Linked DNA regions of Homo sapiens: region 1 is linked to region 2. The links come from fine-mapping of genetic effects on gene expression. Tissue or cell type: whole blood. Region 2 holds a variant in brackets; the other region holds the start of a gene. All regions are shown on one strand. Distances are between the middles of the regions.

Region 1 (8,181 bases), 23 kb after region 2:
TCTAGTCCCAAAGTCCTTCCCTTCCTAGTAACCACTATGCTCTCCTGCCTCTCAGAGAACAACCCACATGGCACAACACGAGGGCTAAGCTGTCTGGTCTGTCGGGTGAAGCTTCAAATGCTGTTCATTTCCGATAAGGGGAGGTTCCTGGGCTGCAGAGGCTTCCTAGAGGAGGAAGACCATGTAAGGTCTAACTCAGGGCAGGTCAGGATGGTGTGAACTCACTCTGAACACAGTCACCGATGGGTGTTTAGGAAAATTGGCTCTGGAACTCCCACAGGGAAGGTTCTTATCTTTGCGTGCACAACACAGAGCCCTCTGGGTAGACTTCTAGACCCAGGCCTCTTTCAAATACATTAGAAACCTCAGCAAGATAAACTATTTTCTGTCTGGCTGCATCTGTCTATCTGTTTAGAGAGCAGGACATTTCCATCCTCCTCTCTCCAGGCATCCTTGGAAGTCTTTCCCACAAGCAAGACATCTTGGTGAAATTTAATGCTGCGGAGGGAAGTGGTTTTCAGGAGAGAGGAGTCTGTTCCCAGAACTGTAGCACAAAAGCTAGAGGCTGAGTAGGAACATCTTAAACTAAGTCCTCAGTCTTATTTCCAGTTTTCTTCCTGTAGATCGGGGCTTAGGACACCCTGTCACATTTTCTTCACTCCTCCACCAGGAATTCCTAAAGTCCATGCTCTTGGATCCTGGCAAATCCAGGAGGCTGGGGGATGTGGCAAGCTTCAGCAAGACTGCCTGGGACCAACCCTGCAGCCTTAATTCCCAGGCCCGCTCAGCCCAGCTGGCCAGCAAAGGCAGGCAGAGCTTCTGTGTCCACACATGAGAATGACCTGCAGCTGTTCTTTGTCCAGGCTGAGGTCCAGGATTCCCATTGCAGCTCCTAGGAAATCTTTAAAATTAGGTCGGGGATGAGCCTGTCAGTAGATTAGGTAGGGAACTTTTATGAAGTTGAGGGTGAACCATCTGGAGGGTGAACTGGCTGGTGTGATTCTAGAACTGGGGGTGGTGCCTAGCAGTGCATTTGTGAGAAGACACAGCCAGGCTTGGTATATGATGTGGTGTGTGTGTATATTCACAGGCATCGTGGAGCATATACACTTTTTTTGTGTGTGTTGAAATAAACCTTACAGATTACAAAGTACTTTTTTTTTTTTTTCTGAGACAGGGTCTCTCTCTGTCGCCCAGCCTGGAGTGCAGTGGTACAATCATAGCTCACTGCAGCCTCGATCTCCCAAGCTCAAGTGATCCTCCCGCCTCAGCCTCCCATGTAGCTGGGACTACAGGTGTGTGACACCATGACTGGCTATTTTATTTTATTTTTGTAGAGATGGAATCTCACAATATTGCCCAGGCTGATCTCAAACTCTTGGGCTCAAGCAGTCCTCTCGCGTCAGCCTACCAAAGTGCTAGGATTACAGGCATGAGCCACCACGCCCAGCCAGATTACAAAATACTTTGACATCTTTTCTCTACAGCCCTCAAAAGGAGGCAGGGCAAGCACAATTAAATCCCATTACAAATGGGGTGACTGAAGCTCCATTCATGGCTTGCCCAGGGTCACACAAAGAATGAATAGCAGATCCCTGAGCCTGTGTGCTTCCCTCTGTGCCAGGCTGCTTTACCCAGGCATGGGTGCACGTTGTGCATGGGACATTTCTCCTTTGTTGTGTCCTGAGTACCTTAAGCCACTCAGATATTGCTCAGGTGGAGTGAGGGGAAAATGTTTTCAGGTTGTATTAGTCAAAACAAAATACCACACACTGGGCGACTTTAAAATCATACATTTATCCCTCACAGTTCTGGAGGCTTGGAAGTCCAAGTTCAAGGTGGCAGCTGGACAGGTTCCTGGTGAGGGCTCTCTTCCTGGTTTGCAGACAGCCACCTTCTCTTCGCATCCTCACTTGGTGGGAAAAGACAGAGGAGAGAAAGAGAGAGAGAGAAAAATGAGATAGAGAGAGAGAGAGAAATGAGATAGAGAGAAATGAGAGAGAGAGAGAGAGAGAGAGAGAGAGGGAGACACAGAGACAATGCTCTCTTTTCTTACCAGATCTATAATGAGGGCCCCACCCCATGACCTCATCTAACCGTAATTACCTACCAAAGGCCCATCTCCACATACCATCACATTAGGGGTTAGGGTTTCAACATAAGCATTTGGAGAGGACATAAACATTCTGTCTACAACATGAGTGGAGATCCATCTCTTCTTTACCTCTGGTAAGGGGACCACACGCTGCAGCCAGCGAGACAGTGGCATGTTCTTGTTACAACTCGATCTAACTCCCCCAGAAGAGGAGGCAGGGAAGGCGGACAAAACTGGGAGAGGGAGAGAGTGTTAGGAAGAGAGTAGGGTGGCCAGAGGCAGCAAATAAAATATAAAATGCTTAATTCTGAATCTCAGATAAACAACCAATAATGTTTTTTAGCATAAGTATGTCCCAAACTAAGCTTGGGACATATTTATGCTACGAAATTATTCGTTGTTTATCTAAAATTCAAACTAGCTGGGCATCCTGTCTTTTAATCTGGCAACCCTAAAAGGCAAGGGCCAAAAATGCCGGAGGCAAGCCAACGGATTCCAGGAGGGACAACTGCTGGACTTTGGACTGATGATGCTCTTTTTATATATTTAACTTTTTAAAAAAGCCTCTTTTCTTTCTTTTTACCAGCTTTTCACTAGCTTTTTAAAAATTGTGGTAAAACATACATAACCTAAAATTCACCGTCTAAACCATTTTTCAGCATACAGTTCAGTGGGATTAAGTAGATTCACACCGTTGTGCCGCCATCACTACCACTCATTTCCAGCACCCTTCCATCACCCCAGCCTGAAACTCTACCCATTGAACACGAGCTGCCCAACTCCGCCTTGCTTCCCCATTCCTGGCGACCACTGCTTCTGTCTCTGTGAATTTTGACTATTCTAGGCACTTCACAAAACTGGACTCATACGATATCTGTAGTTTTGCGTCTGGCTTCTCTATTGAATTCTTAAAGGGGGGTGGGAACTAAGCAGATCACAAGGGAGCTGCCCACAGAGGTAAAGACAAGGTCAGGTAGGCTGAGAGACGCAGGAAAGCGGGTCAAGGCGTAGGGCTGGAGGGCAGGGGCGGGCCCTGGGCGTGGGCTGGGGGTCCTGCCCCGGGGCGCACCCCGGGCGAGGGCTGCCCGGAGGAGCCGAGGTTGGCGGACAGCTTGGCCCTGAGCTTGAGGGGAAGGCAGCGATGGGACAAAGGACGGAGGTCTAGGAAGAGGGTCTGCAGAGCAGAAAGCACGGGTAGGGGCGGCCTGACGCTCGGAAGACAACGGATGGGAGCCGTGTGCACGTCGGGAGCTCGGAGTGAGCGTGAGTTCCGTGCCCAGGCCCGCGACTCGGCCCGACAGGACAGCGCTCCGGGTCGACGGGGTCCTGGAGCCGCGCTCGGGGAGGCGTCTTGGGCTCGCCCCGGAGCTTCCTCCCTGGAGCCGCGCCCTGCACCCGGCCTTGCCCGGCCCTAGCAGGGAAGCCAAGGCTTGTGGGGCGCAGGGACCCGGGCTCTGCGGGGTCCCGGTTCCGCCTCCCCACTCCTGCGTCTTCCCGCCCCTGCCGGGTTCTGGGAAGCCTCGCGCGGCTCTTCCGCAGCTGCTGCCCGCCCGGAGCTCCTGGTCCCTCGTAGGGGACCCCACTTCTCTGACACCGCTTTGGGTTCCCGGGGCCTACAGCGAGGCTTGTAACTCCGGGAGAGACCCTGGAGCGGGGTGTGGGAGAACGGTCTGGAGGAAGGGCTCCGAGCACTTCGAAAGTATAAACCGCGGTCCCAAAGAGGCGTGCTGTGTCTGCATTTTCCTGGGAGTGCACGGTTTACATTCTCGAAAGCAGTGCTGTCGACTAGAAATATTGAGCGATACACATGTACAAGTTTTGTCACTTAAAAAGAATTTGAAAAAACTTCATAGATGCAAAAAAAAAAAAAAACCCACCATTATTAAAGAATACTTAGGTATTTGTGGAATGCATTGAAGAGTTAACAAAATGGATAGGCAGGAAATATCGCAGACCTAGAATGAATTACAGTTACCCACTGTGGAACTGAGGAGCTAGGGTTTCTCATAAAACTCCCTGATAGAAGACGACTTTTGATAAAATTTTTTTTCCGCCAACAAAATCCCCTGTCTTCTCAACTAGTTACTGTCTGTCCACTAAATAAGAGGTGGTCCGTCACTTCTTCAGATGAGCAACTACAGGCTTTTCAAAAGATAATTGCTAATCAACCCCTTTGTGCCTGGGTTTTCTTATTTGTAAAAATAGATACTACTACCTAACTCCAAAGTGTGTGGTGAAGACAAACAATTGGGGTGATGTATACTAAAGTAACGAAAGTGTTGACCACACACTACGGGCTGGTTAGTGTTAGATTCCCTTGTTTTTCCCTCAGTATCAAAAACAGATCTAATTTAGGTTTACATAAAGACAAAGTATGAAGATAAGGTGACTTACAGTTGGTACTACTAACAAAATGTTTGGGCTAATATTTGCATTATTGCATGAAAACAACAAAACATATCAATAAATAACAAAAAGCTTGGAATTCAGACGACAGATCCAAGTCTGGGCTTGATCTCAAGCTAGTGTTTTGATGTTGAAAAAATGTTATTTGGTCTTTCTAACCCCATTTCCTTATGTAAAATAGGGGATGATGATAAATTCACTGATAATAAGAGTTAAATGAGATTCTTGAGGAGTCAGAATGGTTCTAACATGTGTAGGTATTATTAGCAGTCATACTGTAGCATAAGAAAATACCGTCTGCTGAAAGAGGGACAATAAAGATTATCTACATGGTCATCATTTAAAAGCTACCAGATATAGGAAGAAGGGGCCATAAAATGATAACGTTATGATGATTAATTTTGATGCTTAGGTCAGAGTCCATTCTAGGATATCTGCTGCCCAAAAACAGCAGAGACTCATTTCTTTGGAATCACAGGACGCTGAGTGAGAGGAAAGAAAAAGAAAAGAAATATTTAAGTCACATATGTGATTTCTAAAAGTAAAAAGAAACAGATGAAATTAGTGATATATTTTTAAAATCCAGTATATCCCAAATATGGTTATTTTAGCATGTAATCAATATAAAATAATAAGATATTTTACATTCTTTTTTTCTAGCCTTTGAAATTTGGTGCATATTTTACACTTATGGCACATCTCAATTCAGACTATCCACATTTCAAGTGCTCAGTGGCTGCATGTGCCTGGTGGCTACCATATTGGACAGCACAGGTCTAAGGATTTCATTCCTGCCACAAGTCCAAACTCCTAGCTTTAATTTTGAGTGTTTTTAACAAACTGGCCTCTGTTTATCATTCTTTCTTCTAGTACTTCCCCAAGGATGATTGTACCCTCAGCACTCAAGACCGCTTGCGGTTCCCCTACACACTTTTTGTTCAAGCTGTTTCTTTTACCTGGAATGCTGTCTTTGCACCTTCTTCCTGGACCTGGTTCACCCTCGTTGCCTAGGCTGGAGTGCCATGGCGCGATCTTGGCACACTGCAACCTCCACCTTCCCGGTTCAAGTGATTCTCCTTCCTCAGCCTCCCGAGTAGCGGGGATTACAGGCCTGCACCACCACGCCTGGCTAATTTTGTATTTTTAGTAGAGATGGAGTTTCACCATGTTGGTCAGACTGGTCTCGAACTCCCGACCTCAGGTGATCTGCCTGCCTTCGCCTCCCAAAGTGCTGGGATTACAGGCGTGAGCCGCTGCGCCCGGCCGAGAGGCACACATTCTGCTAAGAGCTTTTTCCTGACTCCCCTAACTCCAAGAGGGATTTGTCACTCCTTAGCTTTGTACCCATGACTGGAGTAGAATGAATTTAATTTGAGTTTAGTTGTTTTTGAGACTCTCCCTGGCTAGTGTAGTGTCTTATTCGTCTTTGTTGTGATCATGGCCTGCACCTAACAGATGATCAGTAGATGTTTGCAGACAGAAAGTAAACCACTCATCAGGTGTATTCAGTCCCATTCTTGAACGGGCTTGCTGCCTCCTTTTTGAGGAGATCTGTGTATGTACTCTTCTTTCACGCATATGTGTGAGCAAACACACACACACTAACAAGAAATTCATCTGAAGATGTGCACAGGAAATATCTTGCATCTTTACCCCCTTTGTGATCTTACATATGGGAGAACTGAGGCACAGAAATAAGTTAGGACAGCCAGCAAACTTGCATCAGTATAAATACAAAGAAGGGGAGGGAGGAACATGCTTGAAAGGGGTGTGCTGGTCTCAGAGGGTTGGGTTTCTCAGTTGGCTGGGCATCAGCTGGCCATGCTTTAGTTATTTGATGGGAGGAAAAATAAGTGGGAGGTGAGGAGTAACTCCTGGGCTCTGATGAGTATTCAAGGCAAGTACAGATCTGGAAAGCCTGTATGCAAAGGAGGAACTCACTGAAAAGTGCTGGCCTGAGGAGGGCAGAAGGGAGGGCTGGGGAAGCCAGCAGCGGGAGCAAAGGAGTAGGCTCCAACTGGGTGAAGATGTTGGTGTGGTGCGTTATGTAAAATATACAAATTATTATTGGAAATAACCACGTCTCAGCAGTGCTAGTTCTCAGTTTGGAGAATGGGAAATCGAAAGGATCAGATTCAGAGACGGCAACTTACTCAAGGTCACAGCATTTTAAACCCAAGTGAAATCTCCTAGGCCCTTCATGCCACACTCATCCATCCATACCTACTTGTGTTGCAACCAAGGGCCCCACTGTAGTGCCTAGGGGAGCAGGTCTAGGGCACAGTGCCAGGCCTGATTAATGTCTTCCTTACCATTTTCCAGTGAGGGGCTGTGATTAGGCCTATTTATAGGGGCCTGGTCCCTTAATATTCTGCCTGGTGCATCTCTTGCCAATCAAATCAGTGCTGTCTGCAGTGTGATTGCTGCTTTAGTGGCACCAGGGAGAGGAGTTAATTAAACCCAATATAAATAGACTCTGCCCTCACTTTGCAATTCCAGGAGTGTTTTTCCTTCCTGTCCTCCACCCCCACAGGCACCTCTTTCCTCTTGTCCCCCTAAGCTCTAGCCTGGGTGAGCAGGGCTGGATACTCCTATACCTAGAGTCACTAGCCACTGCCCAGTCTGTTTCAGGAGCAGGCCTCAGATTCCTCAGGGGTTAAAGTGGGAAGAACCCGTGTGTGCACATTTTTTGTGCTTTTCCAGAACTGTGTACCATTTGGCAGTTGATCAGGCAATCTCCCCTGCTACCCCATTTCTACCCCTTTGTTTCCAGCCTCTTTTTTCCTCTGCAACCAAGGTTTCTTGTTTATCCAAGGTGGGGAGCTGAACTGAGACAAGGTATGGAAAGGGTGCCTGGCAGGTAGCAAGCACCTTGTAGGGGGTCAGAAATGTTGCACCTTCTCTGAACTCCTCCATTGACCCTACAGATTCCCCAGTCCCGGGCCCTGCCCTTTCCCTCATTCACTCAGCAGGCATCAGCAGAGTCCCATCTATGCGCTCCTGGCCTCTCAGCAAATGCTCTGTCCCCTACTCCCCTATCTGTGCAGGCTGAAGCTATGTGCATAGTTGGGATGAGGGCTGTGTTGTCTCAACACCACGCTGCCCTGTGGTGGGGGCGTGCCGTTGGTCGTGGGTGGCTCTGACGCTCCGGCTCCGACCCACAGGCACCATGACTCCTGTGAGGATGCAGCACTCCCTGGCAGGTCAGACCTATGCCGTGCCCTTCATCCAGCCAGACCTGCGGCGAGAGGAGGCCGTCCAGCAGATGGCGGATGCCCTGCAGTACCTGCAGAAGGTCTCTGGAGACATCTTCAGCAGGTGGGTGCTGCCACTCACCCCCACCTGATGAGAGGGCCATCCCTGTCCTGGGCAATCCCAGCAACACACCCTCTGGGAGCAGCCCCCTTGGGGAATCCCGGTCCTGGGGAACCCATCTGGCTTCCCTGTGTGGGAGGGGCTGAAGTGAGAGCCCAACTTGGAAGCTTTTACTCCTGGGAGTCCGAGAGCTCACTCCCTTCCACCCCACTTAGCCTCCTGGTTTCCTGTGGTGGCTCTGCTCTCACAACTCATGCTTTTCCTCCCATTGGAGGGCCTATTCCTTCACGTTTTCCTGCAGCCAACAAATATTTACCCAGCAGTGCTCGTGTGCAAGGCAGTGTGGGAATCTCTATATATCCAGC
Region 2 (8,181 bases):
ATGGCTCAATCCCTTGGCTGGAAAGTTGGTGCTGGCTGTTGTTGGCAGGCCTTGCTTCCTCTTCACAGGGCTTCTTGAGTGTCTTCATGACATGGCGGCTGGCCTATCCCAAAATAAGCTGTCCAAGAGAGCAGGGCAGAAGTGTCCATGCCATTTATGGCCTCACCATGGAAGTCACACACAATCACTTCTGCAATATATACTGATTACCCAGATCTGCATCGTTCAGTGTGGGAGGGGACCACAAAAAGGCACAAATGCCAAAAGGCAAGGACCATTGGGGCCATTTTGGAGGCTATTTACCACAGCCCCTCTCTTCCATATTCCAGCCCACCTGCATATTCTGTTGATCCTCCTTCCAAAAATGTATCTCAAACCAAATGACTAATTTTCATTTCTGTTGGCTCTAGCCTAGTCCAAGACTCTATCAACACTTGACTTGAAGAGTCTCCCGTCTGATATTCCTCTTTCTGCTCTTGCCCCCCTTCAAGGTATTTCTCCCAGAGAAGCCATTCATCATGCATTCATTATTCTCCATTCATTAATTCAACAAATATTTATTGTACGCTTACCACATGCCAGATTTATTTTAGGTTCTTGGGATATAGCAGTGAAAAGTCCTTGGGCTTTACATACAGTGGGAAAATAAATAATATGGAAAATGTTAAAGGCAACATATGTGATCCAGAAAATTATAGCACGGTGAAGGAAATAGGAAACAATAGAAAAGTTAGGGACTTCTGGCTATAGTATTATATAGGGCTGTCAAGGGTGCTATCTCTGATTAGCTTACATTGAAACAGAAACCCAAAAGACAGTAGAGGGCAGGTATGTTAATATCTGGGCAAGTATTCTAAGCAGAGGAAAAAGAAAATGCAAGGGCCCTGAGGCAGGATCGTGTTTGGTATGTTTGAGGAATAGCTGTTCTGTTCCGTTGTGGCTGGAACAGAAGGAGGAGGGCGGGAGGGGAGGGTGATGGAGAATGGTACATGATGGAGGTCAGATTATGTAGGGCCTTGTAGACTACAATGAAGACTTTGGCTTTGTTTTGGGTTGGTGGGGGACAAGGAAAGCTATTGGAATGTTTTAGTGACTTGATGTGACTTACTTTTTAATAGGAACATTTGGGCTGCTCAGCCCATGATGTTTAAAAATGCCATCAGGTCACTTCCACTGTTTAAAACCTTTCAATGGATTCTGGTTGTACTTAGAATAAAATCTAAGCTCCCTTAGCTATTATTATTATCTCATTATTAAAATTGACATCCTTTATTCTCTATTACAGCAGTCTAATTCCTTCCTAATATGTACCTCACTAGTAACTATTATTATTATTGCTTATTTGTTTATAATCTGTCTCCTCTACTTGAAAATATGTAGCCTGGGGATCTTGTGGATTTCCATACTAAATCATCCCAAGGCCACTTTGCTTTTGAGCTCTGTGTGTGTGTGTGTGTGTGTGTTTTGATCTCTTCTGTAATTTTTTTTCCCCTGATCTCGCTGATTGTTATATTTGGTCAGTGACTGACCTCTAGCAATGATGGTGCCAGGGCAACTTTGTTGTTGAACTGTATGTTAAGGTTTGTTTTGGCTTGTTGGTTATATCAGTACTTATCAAATGAATTATCTGGGAAGAGAGGAGAGGATCTTATTAAAATACAGGTTCTTATTCAGTAGGCCTTGGGTGGGGCTTGAGGTTCTGCATTTCTTTCTTTCTCTTTCTTTCTTTTTCTTTCTATTTCTTTCTTTCTCTTTTTTCTTTCTCTTTCTTTCTTTTTCTTTTTTCTTTCTTTCTCTTTCTTTCTTTCTCTCTTTCTTTCTTTCCTTCCTTTCTTTCTTTCTTTCTTTCCTTCCTTCCTTTCTTTCCTTCCTTCCTTCCTTTCCTTCCTTCCTTCCTTCCTTCCTTTCCTTCCTTCCTTCCTTCCTTCAGACAGAGTCTCACTCTGTAGCCCAGGCTGGAGTGCCGTGGTGCCATCTTAGCTCACTGCAACCTCTGCCTCCCAGGTTCAAGCAATTCTCCCACCTCAGCCTCCGGAGTAGCTGGGACTACAGGCGTGCACCACCATGCTCAGCTAATTTTTGTATTTTTAGTAGAAATAGGGTTTCACCACATTGACCAGGCTGGTCTCGAACTCTGGAGCTCAAGTGATCTGCCCACCTCAGCCTCCCAAAGTGCTGGGATTTCAGGTGGAGCCACCATGCCCAGCTGAGGTTCTGCATTTCTATCAAGCTTGCAGGTGATGCCCATGCTGCCAGCCCTTTGAGTAACAAGGGGGCTTTATTACTGAGCTTGGCTGAACATTGGAATCATCTGTGGAGCTTTAAAACTACTAATGCTGGGCTCTCAACCCCAGAGATTGCAATATCATCAGTCTAGAATGCAGTTTGAGTACTAGGATTTTGAAAAGCTTCATAAGTGATTCTATTTTGTAGAAATATTGAGAACTACTAGATTGGATGATATTGAATCCAATTTTAAAACAAGATGTAGCAATAAATGTTCTTCAGCGCTGTGTTGCTGACTTTTTAGAAAGTCAGTTTTGTAGCTCTAGAAAGAATCTGGCTGCATCCATGGATGACCTCCAGATCTCTGCTTAGCATGACTGGGTAATTTCTCCAATGTCTCCAGCACATGCTGTCACTTAACAGCAGAAAGAGAATTCCTACTTTCAGGAGAAAAGTCATTCCTGAAGATTACAGTTAAAATATGCCTACAGATGATGAGGTTGTAGTAAATCAGTCCCCTTGCTCTCTGAGCTTGTTCTAAGTTACAGGAAGCAGAAGAAGCAGAGAAGCACTCCATTTCTTTTTTCTTGTAATCTCTAGCATGTTCACATGCATAGTTTCTGAGTCAGTAGCAAACTAAGAACTTCTTGTGTGATTCAAGCTAACTCCTCGATTATCAGAAGCAGATGTTTCAAACGACTGAAGATCAGTGAGGCATATCCTATTTACAGGTTAATAATTGACTGCTAGATGCAGGTGCACCAAATGGTCTTAGAGACATTAGATAGGAGAGACAATGTCAGTGCTCCCCCTACCCTGCCTCCCCTAATCTAAAGCCTACTCTGTTTCTTTTATCAAGTGATTGGCTGTATGTTAACAGAGCCTGGGGCACTTTCCTGTTGAAATGCCTTTAATCCCAAGCAACTGGATTGATTTTTTTTTTTTTTTGGATGGTTTAGATTGGACGACTGATTATTGGACAGAATGGCGTCTTGTCGACACCTGCGGTCTCCTGCATTATCAGGAAGATCAAGGCAGCTGGTGGAATCATTCTAACAGCCAGCCACTGCCCTGGAGGACCAGGGGGAGAGT[T/C]TGGAGTGAAGTTTAATGTTGCCAATGGAGGTATGTGGTTCAGTATATGCCTTAATAATCACGATTCCTTTCCTCTTATATTATTATAGTCTCACAGTGACCCTTTGATGATAGACAAGCAAGGTGCAGAGGACCTAGCTCAGAAAAATTTAGTGAGGTGCCCAAAGTGATCCAACAAAGAAGTGGCATGATGGGCTCATGAACCCATTTGGGTGGTCTCTTGGTCCCCTGTACTCTTCAGCATAAACTATTGAATAGTTGATGCTTATCTGATATGGAAGGACTCTGAATTTTAACATTAAAACATACCCTGAAGGTCGTTGTCTAAATGACAATGACCCTCATTTTACACATCAACAAATCAAAGGCCTGACAGGCTCAGTTACTGCTGAAGGCCACAGGGTTGATCAGGGTCAGATTAATGATTTTTAGCCCAAATCCTGGGCTCTCTTTTTCCTACAGTGTTGACTTTCTCTCAAAATCATAGAATTGTTTCACTTTTTCTTATATTCACAGCAATTTATAGTTTGGGGGTCCTTAGTGGAGGGGGTGGGATATATGTATGGAGTAAATTTCTTTTAAAAATTGAACACACAAAAAAATAGGGAGAATAAGAAATAGATAACATGTACCCATTATCTTGTTTTTCTATTTTGCTTATCTTTTTTTTTCTGAAGAATTTTAAAGCAAATTATAGCACGAGAACATTTCACACCCAAATATTTTTGTATGCATCTCTTAAAAAGAAAGACACGTTGCTGCATGACCGTGCTAACATACCTAACAATAATAACATTAATTCTCCAATATCACCTGAAAACTAATCTATAGTCAAATTTTTCAATAATCCCCAAAATATTATTATTTATAGCTGTTTTATTCAAATCAGGATACATCTAAGGATGCCATGCATTTGCTTGGCAAGTCTCTTAAATCTCTTTTAATCTAGAATGCTGAGTTTGCATGAATGTGGGTAGGAGCCAAATTTTAACCAGCAACAGTTACCATTATAAATTATTCCTCATCCCAGGCAAAGCAGTGCATTCTGAAGGGAAAACTTATTATCTATCCCTCCTTGTAGACGTTTTACACGTTATCCAAACAAGAAAGTGTATTCATGTTGAATATTTAAAAAACAATATTGTAACCACAAAGCAGAAAACTAAACCACCAAACCACAAAGGTAGACAACAATAGAGGAAGAAGAGAACAAATTATCTACAAAGTAACCAGAAAACAATTAGCAAAATGGCAGGAGTAAGTCTTTTACTATCAATAATAACCTTGCTGGTACATGGGTTAAACTGTCCAATCAAAAGATATAGAATGGCTGAGTGGATCAACAACAAGATCCAACTAGATGCTGCCTACAAGAGACCCATTTTTAAACTTTAAGAATAGGCATATACTGAAAGTAAAGGGATAGAAGGAGATATTCCATGAAAACAGACAGTTACCAAAAGAGAGCAGGGATGCCTATACTTATAGCAGATAAAACAGACTTCCAGTAAAAAGCTGTTCCAAGAGACAAAGAAGGTCATGATTTAATGATAAAGAGGTCATCTTATCAAGAGGACATAACAATTGTAAACATATATGCATCCAAAATTGAAGCACTTAAATATGTAAAGCAAATATTAGTGGACATGAAGGAAGAAATATACAGCAATATAACACTAATAGGGGACTTCAGTACTCCACTTGCAACAATGGAGAGATCAACCAGACAAAAAATTAACAAGACAACACTAAATTTGAACTATACTTCAGACCATATGGACCTACCAGACCTACATTCATCCAACAACAGCAGAATATACATTCTTCTCTAGCATACATAGAACATTCTCCAGGATAGACCATATGTTAGGCCACAAAATAAACCTTAACAAATTCAAAAAGGTTGAAATCACTTCTAGTATTGTTTCCAACCACAATGGTGTGAAGCTAAAAATCAATAACGGGAGGAATCTTGGAAAATTTACAAATATGTGGAAACTAAACAACATGCTTATGATGAACTAACGGGTCAAAGAAGAAATCAAGAGGGAAATTAAAAAATATTTTGAGATTAATGACAATGGAAACACAATGTATCAAAACCTACAGTATGCAGCAAAGTCAGTTCTAAGAGAGAAGTTTATAGCAATAAATGCCTAGATTAAAAAAGGAAAAAGATCTAAATAAGTAGACTAACACTATGCCCCAGGGAGCTAAAGAAAGAACAAACTAAACCCAAAGTGAGCAAAAGGAAGGAAATAATGAAGATCAGAACAAAAGCAAACAAAATGTAGTATAGTAAAACTATAGAAAATATAAATAAAATCAAAAGTTGGTTCTTTGAAAAAATAAAATCTACAAACTCCTAGCTAGATTCACTAAAAAAAGCAGACTCAAATAAAATCAGAAATGAAAGTGGAGACATTGCAATAGATACCTCAGAAATAAAAATGCTCATAAGGGATTATTATGAACAATTTTATGCCAACAAATTGGAGGACCTAGAAGAAATGGATAACTTTGCTGCTACTCAGATACATTTTATTTCAAAAACATACACTAAGGTGTTGCTGTTGGATCTTTCCAAAAACATATTCACACAGAACTTTCAGTCACACTGAGCCATATTTGAACAATCTTTCAAGGTCAGCTCTGGCATAAGCTAACATTATACCATTTAACTCAGAAATTTCTTTAGTATTTGATTAATGGGTTTATGTTTGATATGTAATGTAATTTTCTAATGCTAAATCAAGTGGTAATTTTGTTAGTCAAGTTGATTTAGTGGCTTGGGAAGAAAGCTTTTAATGTTCCCCTAATTTTTCTTACCTTTGACATGATCCTTCACATGTCTTATTTTGCTTAGTGATTTTTCTTTTTTTTTTTTTTTTTTGAGACAGGGTCTTACTCTACCACCCAGGCTTGAGTGCAGTGGTGCGATCACAGCTCATTGCAGCCTTGACCTCCCAGACTCAAGCTATTCTTCCACCTCAGCCTCCCAAGTAGCTGGTACTACAGGCACATGCCACCAAACTTGGCTAATTTTTGTATTTTTTGTAGAGACAGAGTTTTGCCAAATTCTCAGGCTGGTCTGGAATTTCTGGGCTCAAGTAATCCTGCCTTGGCCTCCCAACATGCTGATATTACAGACATAAGCCACAGTACCTGGCCAGTTTTCTTTTTTAAAAAATCTATTGGTTATTAATTTGAAGCCTTCCTTTTCATAGCTGTGCTCCTTAATTGGGAGCAAACATGAATGGACCACAACGTAGCCAATTTTCTATATACGATCTTTGCCATCCTAATTTAAAGGAATATTAATTCTTTCTTTTCCTCTTTCATTCCACAAACCTGTATTGACTACATCTAAGTTCTAAATGGTGCACTGGATGTTGAAAAAGTTGATGATGAGCAAGAACAAAATTCCTGCTTTCAGGAGACTTACAGTTCAATATGGGAAATGTAATTTGTTAAAATATAAAAGTGCAATTGTGTTACATGCTGTACGAAGTACATGTTGACATGTGAGTATATAATAAATGGGCTGGAGGCCAGAGGATTGCCAAACAGAATGGGCCTCCTGCTGAGATGAAAAGTTGAGCAGGGATTAGTTGGCGAAAGTGGAGGGACGACCCTTTCTAGGCAGGAGGAAGAACATGTACAGAATCTCTGAGGTGTGATGCAACAAAGTCGATATAAAAACTGAAGAAAGGTCTAATGTGGCTTAAATACAGAAGCCAGTAGGAGAGGAGTCGAAAAGAGGCTGGAGAAGTAGAAAGTGTCTGCATTCTGCAGGAACTTATATTGTATAAAAAGAATTTCTCTTTATTCTAAGTGCAATGTGAGTCATAGAACCCCACCCCTGAGGACTTTTGCAGTTTAAATAGCAATCTTGAGTAGTTTTCAAGTTTTTATTTTTTATCATTCTTCAGAATTCCTTTATTAAATAAACTCTTACATGAAACTCGAGATGGATGCATAGGTGGGTGGGCAGATGGATGGATGTATGGGTGGATGTTTGGATGAATGGGTGGGTGAATGGATGGGTTGGTGGGAGGGAGGGAGGTAAAACAATGGGAATAGTGTAGTTAAGCAGACACACCCTAGAGCCAGACTACAAAGGCTCGAATCCTTGCCTTGTCATTTACTAGCTGTGTGACCTTGAGTAGTCACTTAGACATTCAGCACTTCAGTTTCTCATCTGATGATGGGCATAGAAGTTGAAACCCATCTCATAGGAATATCGTGACTACTGCATGAGTGAATGTATGTGAAGCATTTATGATGGCACCTGGGGCAGTGGGTACTCTGTAAATGTTTCCTATTATTATTATTTGAGACGGAGCCTCACTCTGTTGCCAGGCTGGAGTGCAGTGGTGCGATCTTGGCTCATGCAACCTCCACCTCCCAGGTTCAGGTGATTCTCCTGCCTCAGCCTCCCAAGTAGCTGGGAGTACAGGCACACGCCACCATGCCCAGCTAATTTTTGTATTTTTAGTAGAGACAGGGTTTCACCATGTTGGCCAGGATTGTCTCGATCTCCTGACCTTGTGATCCACCCCCCTTGGCTTCCCAAAGTGCTGGGATTACAGGCGTGAGCCACCGCACCCGGCCTCCTGTTATTATTATTACTGCTGACTGAAGCTGGGGAGAATCTCCCCTGTCCCAACCAGTGCAATTCCTGAGACATCAGAGCTCCTGGGAAACATTGCTTTTAGGCCACTTAACTAGTTCCTTTTCTTATTTAATGGAGCAGATAATGAGGCCCAGAGAGAAGATATCACTTGCCCAGGCTCACACAAAGCCAGATTTTGAACCCAGGTCTCCTGGCTCTTGGGCTTTGTGATTCTCAGAGATCTTTCT

What was found. PIP is the estimated chance that this variant, and not a neighbour inherited with it, causes the effect.
Region 1: WASHC1 starts here. The variant in region 2 is fine-mapped to the expression of WASHC1 in whole blood (GTEx, PIP 0.97).

Annotation. Positions count from the first base shown.
Region 1 is chr9:24,489-32,669 of GRCh38, reverse strand. It overlaps WASHC1 (WASH complex subunit 1), which reads left to right and starts at 3,214. Exons shown (of 11, transcript NM_001378090.1): 1 at 3,214-3,358; 2 at 7,666-7,819. The coding sequence starts at 7,671. It overlaps MIR1302-9HG (MIR1302-9 host gene), which reads right to left and starts at 3,011. Exons shown (of 3, transcript NR_197460.1): 1 at 2,788-3,011; 2 at 2,225-2,328; 3 at 1,779-1,912. MIR1302-9 (microRNA 1302-9) reads right to left here and starts at 2,526; the gene lies at 2,389-2,526.
Region 2 is chr9:47,619-55,799 of GRCh38, reverse strand. No RefSeq gene overlaps it. Among named protein-coding and RNA genes, the nearest start is that of FAM138C, 16 kb to the right of the region's middle. The variant T/C (reference allele first, on the strand shown) is at 3,319.